Linked DNA regions of Homo sapiens. The protein of the gene in region 1 purifies or fractionates together with the protein of each later gene. This does not show direct contact. Each region holds a gene or a part of one and is shown on either strand. Other genes may lie near its edges. The genes, in order: RSRC1, PRMT8 and PHF20.

Region 1 (3,228 bases):
TTGTTTTAGAAATACAGTTATTTTATTTTTATATTTGTTTGTTTAGGAATAACTATATTTAGGAATATAGTTATAGATATATAGAAATAGAATATAGGAATAACTATATTGTATTTGTTTTAGGAATAACAAATAGAAAAATGCTGAGAAAATGTCAATCATTTCTTATGATAAGCACATTTTTCTTAAGAAATTGGTACTTACGTGCCTATACTATTGAAATATACATATATTTCATATATCTAAATTCTATTAATCAAAACAAGCTTACAACAAATATCCAACATTTAGTTGGCCAATTTAGGTATGAAAAGTAAATTCAAAGGTTATCTTTAGAAAAATAGCCTTATTGAGTTATAGAATTCATATACCATACAATTTACCCTTTTAAAGTACATAATTCAATGGCTTTTCACATATCCATGGAGTTGTGCAATTATTACCAGAATCAACTTTAGAACATTTTCATCATCCCCCACAAAACCTCATACCATTAGCAATCATTCCCCATTCCTTCCAACCTTTCCATCCTAGGTAACAATTAATCTTCTTTCTCTATGGATTTGCCTATTCTAGACATTTCAGATAAAAGGAATCATACAATATGTGGTCTTTCATGACTGGTTCTTTCATTTAGCATAATTTTTTCTTTTGAGACAGAGTCTTACTCTGTCACCCAGGTGGGAGTGCAGTGGCACAATCTTGGCTCACTGCAACCTCTACCTCCTAGGTTCAAGTGATTCTCCTGCTTCAGCCTCCCGAGTATCTGGGATTACAGGTGCACACCACCATGCACACTCGGCTAATTTTTGTATTTTCAGTAGAGACGGTGTCTTGCCATGTTGGCCAGGGTGATCTCGAACTCCTGTCCTCAAGTGATCAGCCCGCCTTGGCCTCCCAAAGTGCTAGGATTACAGGCGTGAGCCACCGTGCCCAGCCACATAATGTTTTTAAGGTTCATCCATGTTGCAGCATGTATCAGTACTTCATTATTCTTTATTGCTAAATAATGTCCCATTGTATGGATCTACCACATTTTATTTATCCATTCATCAGTTGATGAACTCAAAGGTTGTCTCGGAGCTACTTAAAATATTAAAATATATATATAAAAGTTTGAAAAAAAGGTACGATGTATCTTTGGCAAAAAATAAAACTCTAGGATTTCTTATACCATCATGCAAACCATAGACTCCCAATTTATTCCACCTTTACTGAGTATTCACCAGGTGCGATACACTGTACCAAGTGCTGGGGATACAACTAATAAATCATTGTTTCTGCCTTGAAGGAGCCAGCAGAGTAGTGCTTACTTAGTTACATTTCAGTAGCTTCTTCCCTAAGAAAGAAGGCCAAGGAGTGACTGATTAGCAGTAAGGTTACAGGGATAATATGAAATGGATTAGATCAGAAGCTGAAATTAAAAAGTAAAATTAAAAAAAAACAAGATGAATAGGAGATTGTTATGTAGCCTTTTTTATACCCATTTGTTCCACACCTATTGTTTTTCAATTTCCATTTATTTTAACTTATCTATAATTCTGAACATTTCACTTCTCTGAACAAAGCCAAAAACAGATGTCACTAAGAAAAATATACAGAGGATAAAATATGCATGAATTAAACTGTTCTTAGGTTAATTTGTTTTAGAGTTGGAGATCCATTTATTTAACCAGTATTTATTGAGCACTACTAATTGCTAAGCACTGGGTACACAGGCAGAATCAAATAGATATGGTTCCTGTCCCAAGTGGCAATTATATGTTGCTAATGGAGTTGACAGATTATAAACAAATAAATTCCAAAATAATGCATAATCACAAATTGTAGTATGTGCTATAAAGGACTATACAAGGTGCTGACAAAGAATGATGGGGATCAGGAAGGGAAAAACATCTACTTTAGATTGGGTGGCTAGAGATGGCTTCTCTAGGAGGTGAAATTTAAGCCCTGAAGACTTAGAAGGAGCCAGGCAGGTGAAAAGGAAGAATGGTTCTCTGGCCAGAGGGAAAAGACAAAGATCCTGAGAGAGAAGGGCTTGGTGTCTTTGAAGATCAGAAAAAAGGCCAGAGGGGCTGGTGTATAGTGAGCAAAAAGACAGTGAGACACTGCAGGCCAGAACTTGGGGTATTTCTTCCTTAACACAGCCACATCACCACTCTGCATGGGTATCACTTCCCAGCACCACAGCAGGAAAGTGCCCTCATACAGAAAGCTGGGTAACTGTGGGGCTCACCTTTTATTTCCCTTCTCCAAAGGATCACCCTCCTGAGCTGCCTATTGTTACATTCCTGAAAACAATGTCTTACACATCTTGTCAAGTTCTATAGCTGTTTATGGTGGGAGGGCAAATTTGGTACCAGTTATTCTGTAATGGTCAGATGGTCAGTAAAGTCTAATTATTCTTGAAAAATATTGTTTTGGCTGCTGAATGGGTCCTGGACTAGATAAATGCAAAAGGAAAATCAGGAAGAACAACCAGAGGGCTACTATAAAAGTTAAAGAATGAGATGATGATGTGGATTTAAATGGTGGCTGTGGATTGTGAAGAGGAGACAAGTTATGAGCTATTTTGGGGATGATGATATCAAGATCCACTTTTTTTTTTTAAGGCATGTGTTTTATTCAATTAAAATACTCTAATTTTTATTCTAATGGAAGCTGATCAGCATTCATAGGACAGATTTATTCCCTCATGGACAAAAGGGGTAGATATCTGAGGGATAGATATCTGGGCAGTCATGTATGTTTAGGAATTCTTACAAAGTAAGAGAAATCTATAAATTATTTTCAAATGTTAAGATGCTTATGACTACTAAATCTAACAATGATGCCAGTGTTAATGATAATATTAACTTTTATAGACATTTAAATAAATATTTATTCAATTTGTTTTGGCAGCTTTATTCTCATATTTTGGTGTCAGCAATTTTTTTTGCCAAGTCTCAAACATTTGTATGTCTCCAACACACTGTGCCTAGATGGTTTGTGGCCCTAAGTGATATTATACTGACCCTTTACACAACTGAGAACATTTAAAAAGCCCAATATTCTGCACAAGTGCAAGTGGGAAATACGCTAATCCAAGAGGTTCAAGACATTGATTTTTGGTAGTCTATACTGCCTTACGGGGACTGTAAGAGCATATCATTCTGCGTATCTTAGCCATGGCATGATAGGGCTTAGCTAGGAGACACTTTTCATGTTAAACTGCCTTAAAAATATGTG
Region 2 (3,657 bases), on another chromosome or scaffold:
ATACGCTGGAGGTGAGCCGGGCCCTCCGCAGGTGCAAGGCAGCCAGCATGGGTGTCACCAAAATAGGTGTATGAGCAAGGACCAAGGGAGTGGGGAGGGCGAGCGAAGGGCTTTGCTGCAGTGGGGTTGGCAGGGGGGTCAGGGGGCTTCATAGGCTCATAATATGTTCCCATGCCTGTGACCCTCATGCCTCCTCTTGTGTGGCACAGGACCTGCTCTCTGAAAGAGTGAGGACCTAAAAATGATCACTAACTTCAGATCCTACGGGCATCAGCTGACCCTGATGGATGCACTGGAGGCTCAAATGAGGTTGAGCTGGCCTGATTTGTTTAAAAACAAAAATGACCATTAATGAGAATGACTAGATTTCTGTAAGAACCACTCAAACCAAAAAGAAAAAATTCCACTCAAAACCATTTTTAAAAATCTGGATGTCTCACTTACAAACTTGAAGCTACAGGAGAAGTTTTCCCAATTTAGAGTCTATTGCTCCCTGCTGTGCATTTAGTTCTGATTAATCATTCTGTAATTTACCAGCCAGAGTCCTGTCATAGTTCGTTGAACAAACTTTCCATCATCCTTCTGGAATAAAAACATGGATCCGGACGGTGACCTCAGTGCAACCTTGAGTTGATGCAGTTTTAGTGACTTGGGGTCCAGATTGGGCATGGAGCTCTGCAGCCTACGGCTGCTCGGAATCTTAATATCAATAGCTTAGACCCCCTTGAAAATCCTTTGCATGGAGGAGAAGGGAAGACTGCTGCTGTGTGTGCCCACACACTTCCTTGAGCCAGCCTAATGCCCTATGTTGGCCAATAGCCCCTAGTAAGTTGGCATATGCCCCACCATGACAGGTAGCATTTTGTAGATTGGAAAATTGAATCTGGAAGTTTAAGTGGTTGCTGGTGGTGACTACAGACTGCAGGAAGAATATTCATGGTGATTCAGCTGGACAGTTGTATTTGGCTGCACAGAAAGAATGTGACCTCTTAAAAATAAAAAATAAAAGGACCCAGGAAGTGTTGAAAATGACAGTCAAACTGGAACTTGGAGGCACCATCTTTTTTTATTGATGCCAGCTGTCTCCACCAGTGAATCTTGCAGAATGCCTTACACATAACAAGTGCTCAGTACACATTTGAAGAACCGCAGCTTTCTGGCACTGCAAAGAATTTCAGATTCAACCTCCCTTCTTTTTTTTTTTCCTAATGAGGAAAATAAAAGAGAGGAGATGTTTGATTGAGATTAGCTGTCACCTGGAACAAGAGCGTAAGTTGCTGCCTTTTAGGATTCCAGCATAAAGTTGTGCAGGTTGAGCACAAAAGCACCGGAGAAAGGGGATAAATGGAGTCTAAAAGCCAGTCCAGCACTGGATTGAAGGGAGATGGGTCCTTTTCCTTTGACAAAGGGCTCATCTCCTCACCAAGCCAACTGTGGGGCCATGTCCACACTGAGAAATGTCTGCACTTGAATAGATGTAGAAGGGTGATGTTAAGAGAACAGAAGTCCAGACTGTTGAGGATTTTATAGGGTTAACTGATTCCTTCTGCCTTTTTGCAAGCAGAGATTGTGATTTTTGCTATTCTGTGACCCCCTATATCTAGCTATCATCTATCTGTCTTCTATATCGTCTGTCTATCTATCAATCATCTCTTGTAATCCATATTGATGAGGTTACAGCAACTAATTGATAAGAGGGCTAACACAGAGAACATGAGCAGCAGTAACTCTCTTTGGGGGACACCTGAGGAATATTTCATACATACCTGTTTGTTAGACTTGATGATGGATTACTCCTTGTCTGTTTCCTGCAGCTCCTAATAGAGTCCTGTCCACAAAAATTGTCATGGGTGGAGCCTTGTACTAAACACTCAGGGTAGAGGTCATGAGGCCCCGGAGGCAGGAGAAAACATCTTCTAGGGCTACAGAGAGGTCATGATATAAATGCAGGAGGAGGAACTGACCCATAGCCACACAGACACAGGCAGACATTAGGGAAGAACCTTCAAGAAACGTGCAAAGAAAAAAAAGTAAGGGAGGCCATTAAAGACAATTTTTAAGTTTACAAAACTAAGGCAAGCCAGGCTTTGCATGCAAATGATTAGGCAGGTGAGTCATGCATATATTTGTCAGTTCTCTTTCAAAATAAGAAATAAATTAGGCACAATGTTTGCATTTTAAAAAATCCTTTACTTTGCCACTCTATGAATTTTCTTAGTGCACCCTGGGCCCTGCTCTCAGTTGAGTTCCTGCCCTGGGGTCTCTGAGACCCAGAGAAACTTCAACACCTACCCCTCCCACTCCCACCAAAACTTTTGGAGAATAGCTCTTCCTGCTCATACTTTTTAATGGTAGGGGCTTTTGAGCAGTAACCAGTCAGGAGGGCCACCCAAGACTGAACCTCACTGTAGAGTGACCAGGGTCAATGCATGTGTACAAAGTGTCTTACTCCTTGTAGAGCAGGCTGTATCCAATTAAAGCTTGATTAAATACCACATAGTGGAGAGTAAACTGTTATTAGAAGCTGCTAATGGACACTCCATCACCTGCATTATTCACTGTGAAGAAACTAAATAAAGCCAGCAAACGGTGTGCTCTTTGCCATCCAGGAGCCTCAGTCCAAATTAATTTTCATGAAACTCAGATTCTAGGCAGATGTGGTTCTTTTGATTTTTACTCCTAAGTACAGGCCATTGTTTGTTTTTCCCAGCAAAGCTCAGGCATTGTGTGAGTTTTTTTCAGAGGATATTGCAGAATGAGAGTTTCAGAGCATGAATATATGTAACCTTTCAAAGGAAATGTTCAGAAAGAACAAACCAACCAATACATCAGCCTGCCAATTTAACAGTGGTATCTAAACTAGCTTGCTCAGATCTTTACAGCAACAAATACAAAAAGGGACTCCAAAATTATGTGTATGTCTATGTCAGTTTATCAAAAACTCAACTAAGAAGTGTCTCCTCCCACAGAGGAAACTGAAGTTCTTGAAGGTGACTCATAAGAAGAAGCCACTGGGGACAGGGGCTTTGACCCTGGCCCTATCTGCTTCCCCTCTCCATCTGTGGATCAACAAGCAGGAATATGTCAGATAATGTCCACCTTCTGTTGAGCTTTAGCTATGGGCCTGGCACTCCACATGTGTTATTTCATTTGATCAATACAATCACCCTCTAAATTGATATTGCTTTTCATGGTTGTTCACTTGGGAATTGGAGTTTAGTTAGGTCAAGTAACTTGTCTAAAGTCGTACAGCTAATGGTGAGAAGATCTGGCACTTAAACCTAGGTTTCCCTGACTGCAGAGCCCATGCTCTCATCAAAATATCAATTTCCTCCCTCACAAACACTAGAAGGGCACCCATTTGGTATTGAGCCTGGCTGTGAACAAATGCAAAAGCAATAGAGGAGGCATCTATGCTTTCTTTGAGTTTGAATTGTCATGGTAACCTAACATAGGGGTGGGGGCCTTGAGAAGAGTTTTAGAGTCATGTCATATCAGATCTGGGCTCTGTTTCCACTGCTGCTACTCAACCTCTCTAAGCCTCGGTTTCCTTAGTTGTAAACAAAAATAACAGTTGACCCCGACTACCACAGGGGTTAGGGGTGCCAATCCCCCACACAGTTGAAAATCCAAGCATAATTTTTGACTCCCACAAAA
Region 3 (3,657 bases), on another chromosome or scaffold:
CATTAGGAAGTACCAAATTTATAAAAATCACTGGAGGTCTGTCTGAGCAGTACCTAATAAAATATAGTATACTGAAAGTGAACAGATACTTTGTCTCTTTCTTTGGCTGCTTGATACTTTATCTGTGTACTGCCGTACAGTGCACCCTTAAAGTATTCTACACCAGTGCTTCTCAAACTTGAATGTGCATGTAAGTCACCCAGGGGTCTTGTTGAAATGCTGATTCTGATTTGGTAGATCTAGGATGGGACCTGAATGCATTTCTGATTTGCAGGTGATGCTGATGTTACTGAACTACACTTTTAGTAGTGAGGTTTCATACACGAAGACAAAGTTTCTCTGTGAAAATAGGAAGGTGGTGGTTAGCCTTATATTTTTTTATTTTATCTTTATCCAGACACACATCCCTTAAAAGTTTGTACAAGGCCATAGTCCCCTTTATTAGTTATACTCAATTAGTTATTCTAGCACATAGCTTTTTAAATATTGGCCAAAACTGGCTGGGCACGGTGGCTCATGCTTGTAATCCCAGCACTTTGGGAGCTGAGGCGGGCAGATCACGAGGTCAGGAGTTCGAGACCAGTCTGGCTAACACAGTGAAACCCTGTCTCTACTAAAAATAGAAAAATTACCTGGGTGTGGTGGCAGGCACCTGTAATCCCAGCTACATGGGAGGCTGAGGCAGAATACTTGCTTGAACCCGGGAGGCGGAGGTTGCAGTGAGCCAAAATTGCACCACTGCACTCCAGCCTGGGCCACAGAGTGAGACTCTGTCTCCAAAAAAAAAAAAAAAAAAAAGGCCAAAACTTCTCCAGGAGTTTGGTTTCTGTGTGTATATATATATATTTTGGGTGGGGACAGGGTCTCATTCTGTCACCCAAGCTGGAGTGCAGTGGTGTGATCACGGCTTACTGCAGCCTCAACCTTCTGGGCTCAAGCGATCCTCCCCTCAGCCTCTTGAGTTTCAGGGACCACTGGCACGTGCCACCACACCTGGCTAATTTTAAATTTTTTGTAGAGATGAGATCTTGCCATTTTGCCCAGGTTGGTCTTGAACTTCTGGGCTCAAGCAGTCCTCCACCTTAGCTTCCCAAAGTGTTGGGATTATAGGTGTGAGCTGCCATGCCTGGCTATTGCCAAATTTAAATGGTTACATATTTCTTACTTGAATGTGAACATAATTATTGATATAGAATCATTCTAATAAATACTGCATAGCCAGCTTGTCTGTCTGGTTCCTCATCCTACCATGAGTAGGGAGTCTGTGATACCCCAAATCAGTGGGTCACAGGTGTTGGAATTTCCAAAGAGTCCTTCTTGGTTTTCTGGGTTCTGGAAATGGGCCAGGAAAAGCCAGGATAAAGCTATGTTCCCCGACCTCGAATGGAAGCTTCTGGCTTTCTCTAAATGGGTGCTCCAGAAAGACAAATGCTGGGGAGAAGATGATATTCTTTGATGGTGATCATGCTTTATGATGATCTTTCTCCTTTTGTACCCACATGTCTAATCTATTCTAAGTCTCAAGTGGGTTTTTCCTTTTTTCAAAAAATTTTTTTGGAGACAAAGACTACCTCTGAAAGTGTTTTTCCTTTCTAAGTGTGTTGGATCATCTGTACCTATTTCCCTGGCTGTCACCTGTCTGGCCCTCTTCCACGTGATCCTGTTGCCAGCCCTAATCAGGACAAACCTGAATGACTAGACTATTTTGTGTCCCTGTCCTCCTCCAACCCCTATTCCTCACATGAGTGTCAGATCCTATTCAGTAACGGATTTGATCTGGATTTGGCTCTAGTCCTAGCTCTTCCATTTACTGTGAGACCTCAGGCAAGTCACTTAATGCTATGGGCCTGCTTCTCCCCATTTGTAAAATGAGGGGCTGATGATCTGCAATGTCCACCCTGGCTGAATCTTGGTCGCTACCTTGCTTAGAAACCCCATTGCCTGTGGTAGCTTGTTGCAGCAGATCTGATTTCTTTCATGTGCTCCCTTGGGCAGCCTGCCAGTTATTCCCTTGTCCAAGTCACTTCTGCCATTATCTTTTTTTCTAGCTGAGGCAGCCAGCTTGTTCTCAACCCAACTTCAGCGTTCTTCTTGCTTCCATGTCTTCTTCCAGTTCCATGCTGTATTTCATTCAGAACTACCTGAAATCCTCAAAGAAGTCTTCCTGAGTTCTCCATTCAATGTTTGTGACTTCTCTGCCTTACCAAGAAGGAGTCTGTACCTTATATACCCCGTATTTACTTGTCAGTTCTCTTATCTAATGTATACTTAAAAAGGGACTTCATTTCCTCCATACCACAGCTTTGTTTTTTGGTTTGAATTAGCAGGGCAGGTGGCATGAAATTTAAAGAGGAAGCAAGCAGGTTGTTTGCCTTTGGCTGGGATTTGGGGAAAGTATGAGATGTAATGTTTTTAGTCCCCTTCCCCAAGATCTCCTGTATCTGTGGGAATCAGTTGCCTGGTATGTCTTCCTGGATTGTAAAGGTGCTTAAACTTCCTTTCTGAAGTTTGAAAGTGTATCCTAAGTGCAAATACCATTTGACAATTACTCGTGGTTGGGTGGGTGCAGTGGCTTACGCCTGTAATCCCAACACTTTGGGAGGCCAGAGTGGGAGGATTGCTTGAAGCCAGGAGTTCAAGACCAGCCTGGGCAACAAAGTGAGATTCCTGTCTCTACTCCCCCACCAAAAACAAAAAAGTAGTCAGGCATGGTGGTGCGTGCTTGTAGTCCCAGCTCCTTGGGAGGCTGACGAGGGAGTTCAGAGTCTGCAGTGAGCTAGGATTGTACCACTGCACTACAGCTGGGTGACAGCACGAGACCCCATTGCTTCCAAGTGCTCTTCTAGGAACACACAGCCACAAAACCCAGAACAAGGAATTGTTAAGGATAATGATAAGAAATCTGTATTTCAAATAACTTAACAAATGAATAAAACCAACAGTTCTTTGAGAGCACCTGATTATTGTCAAAGACAGTTGCTGAGGGGGCTTGGAAGTCAGGACTTAAAGGTATATTTAACCTCTGGAGTTTTCTTCTTTCATCATCTTCCTAAGAAATAATAGGGAGGATGTTTACATTTTTCTTGATAAAGTCTTTTTATTAATTTTATTTATTTATTTATTTTGAGAAAGGGTCTTGCTCTGTTGCCTAGGCTGGAGTGTAGTGGCGCAGTCTTGGCTTACTGCAACCTGTGCATCCTGAATTCAAGCGATTCTTGTGCCTCAGCCTCCTGAGTAGCTGGGATTATAGGTGCGCACCACCATGCCCAACTAATTTTTTGTAGTTTTAGTAGAGACAAGGTTTCACTATGTTGGTTAAGCTGGGACATTTTTCTTGATAAACATTCTTTAAACCAAAATGTATGCTTAGTCAAGATCCTTGATTGGATTATGAGCCTAGAGAAAAGGAGGGTGATGTCTTTGTCTAATCCATCTTTGCCAGTGACTGCCCCTTACAGGCTATTGACTATAGGGTAACCTAATGAAAATTGAGACAGGCACTGTGGCTCACGCCTGTAATCCCAGCACTTTGGGAGGCCAAGTCGGATGGATCACCTGAAGTCAGGAGTTCAAGACCAGCCTGGCTAACACACAGTGAAACTCCGTCTCTACTAAAAATACAAAAAATTAGTCAGGCGTGGTGGCAGGTGCCTGTCA

Evidence for each region.
Region 2: the proteins of RSRC1 (region 1) and PRMT8 purify together in Homo sapiens (affinity purification with mass spectrometry; one large-scale study listed by BioGRID and IntAct). This does not show direct contact.
Region 3: the proteins of RSRC1 (region 1) and PHF20 purify together in Homo sapiens (co-immunoprecipitation; one large-scale study listed by IntAct). This does not show direct contact.

What each region holds. Positions count from the first base shown.
Region 1 is NC_000003.12:158,539,960-158,543,187, reverse strand, and holds part of RSRC1 (serine/Arginine-related protein 53), read right to left. Parts: intron 1-3,228. UniProt on the Homo sapiens protein: Has a role in alternative splicing and transcription regulation. Involved in both constitutive and alternative pre-mRNA splicing. May have a role in the recognition of the 3' splice site during the second step of splicing.
Region 2 is NC_000012.12:3,564,069-3,567,725, forward strand, and holds part of PRMT8 (protein arginine N-methyltransferase 8), read left to right. Parts: intron 1-3,657. UniProt on the Homo sapiens protein: S-adenosyl-L-methionine-dependent and membrane-associated arginine methyltransferase that can both catalyze the formation of omega-N monomethylarginine (MMA) and asymmetrical dimethylarginine (aDMA) in proteins such as NIFK, myelin basic protein, histone H4, H2A and H2A/H2B dimer.
Region 3 is NC_000020.11:35,774,977-35,778,633, forward strand, and holds part of PHF20 (PHD finger protein 20), read left to right. Parts: intron 1-3,657. UniProt on the Homo sapiens protein: Methyllysine-binding protein, component of the MOF histone acetyltransferase protein complex.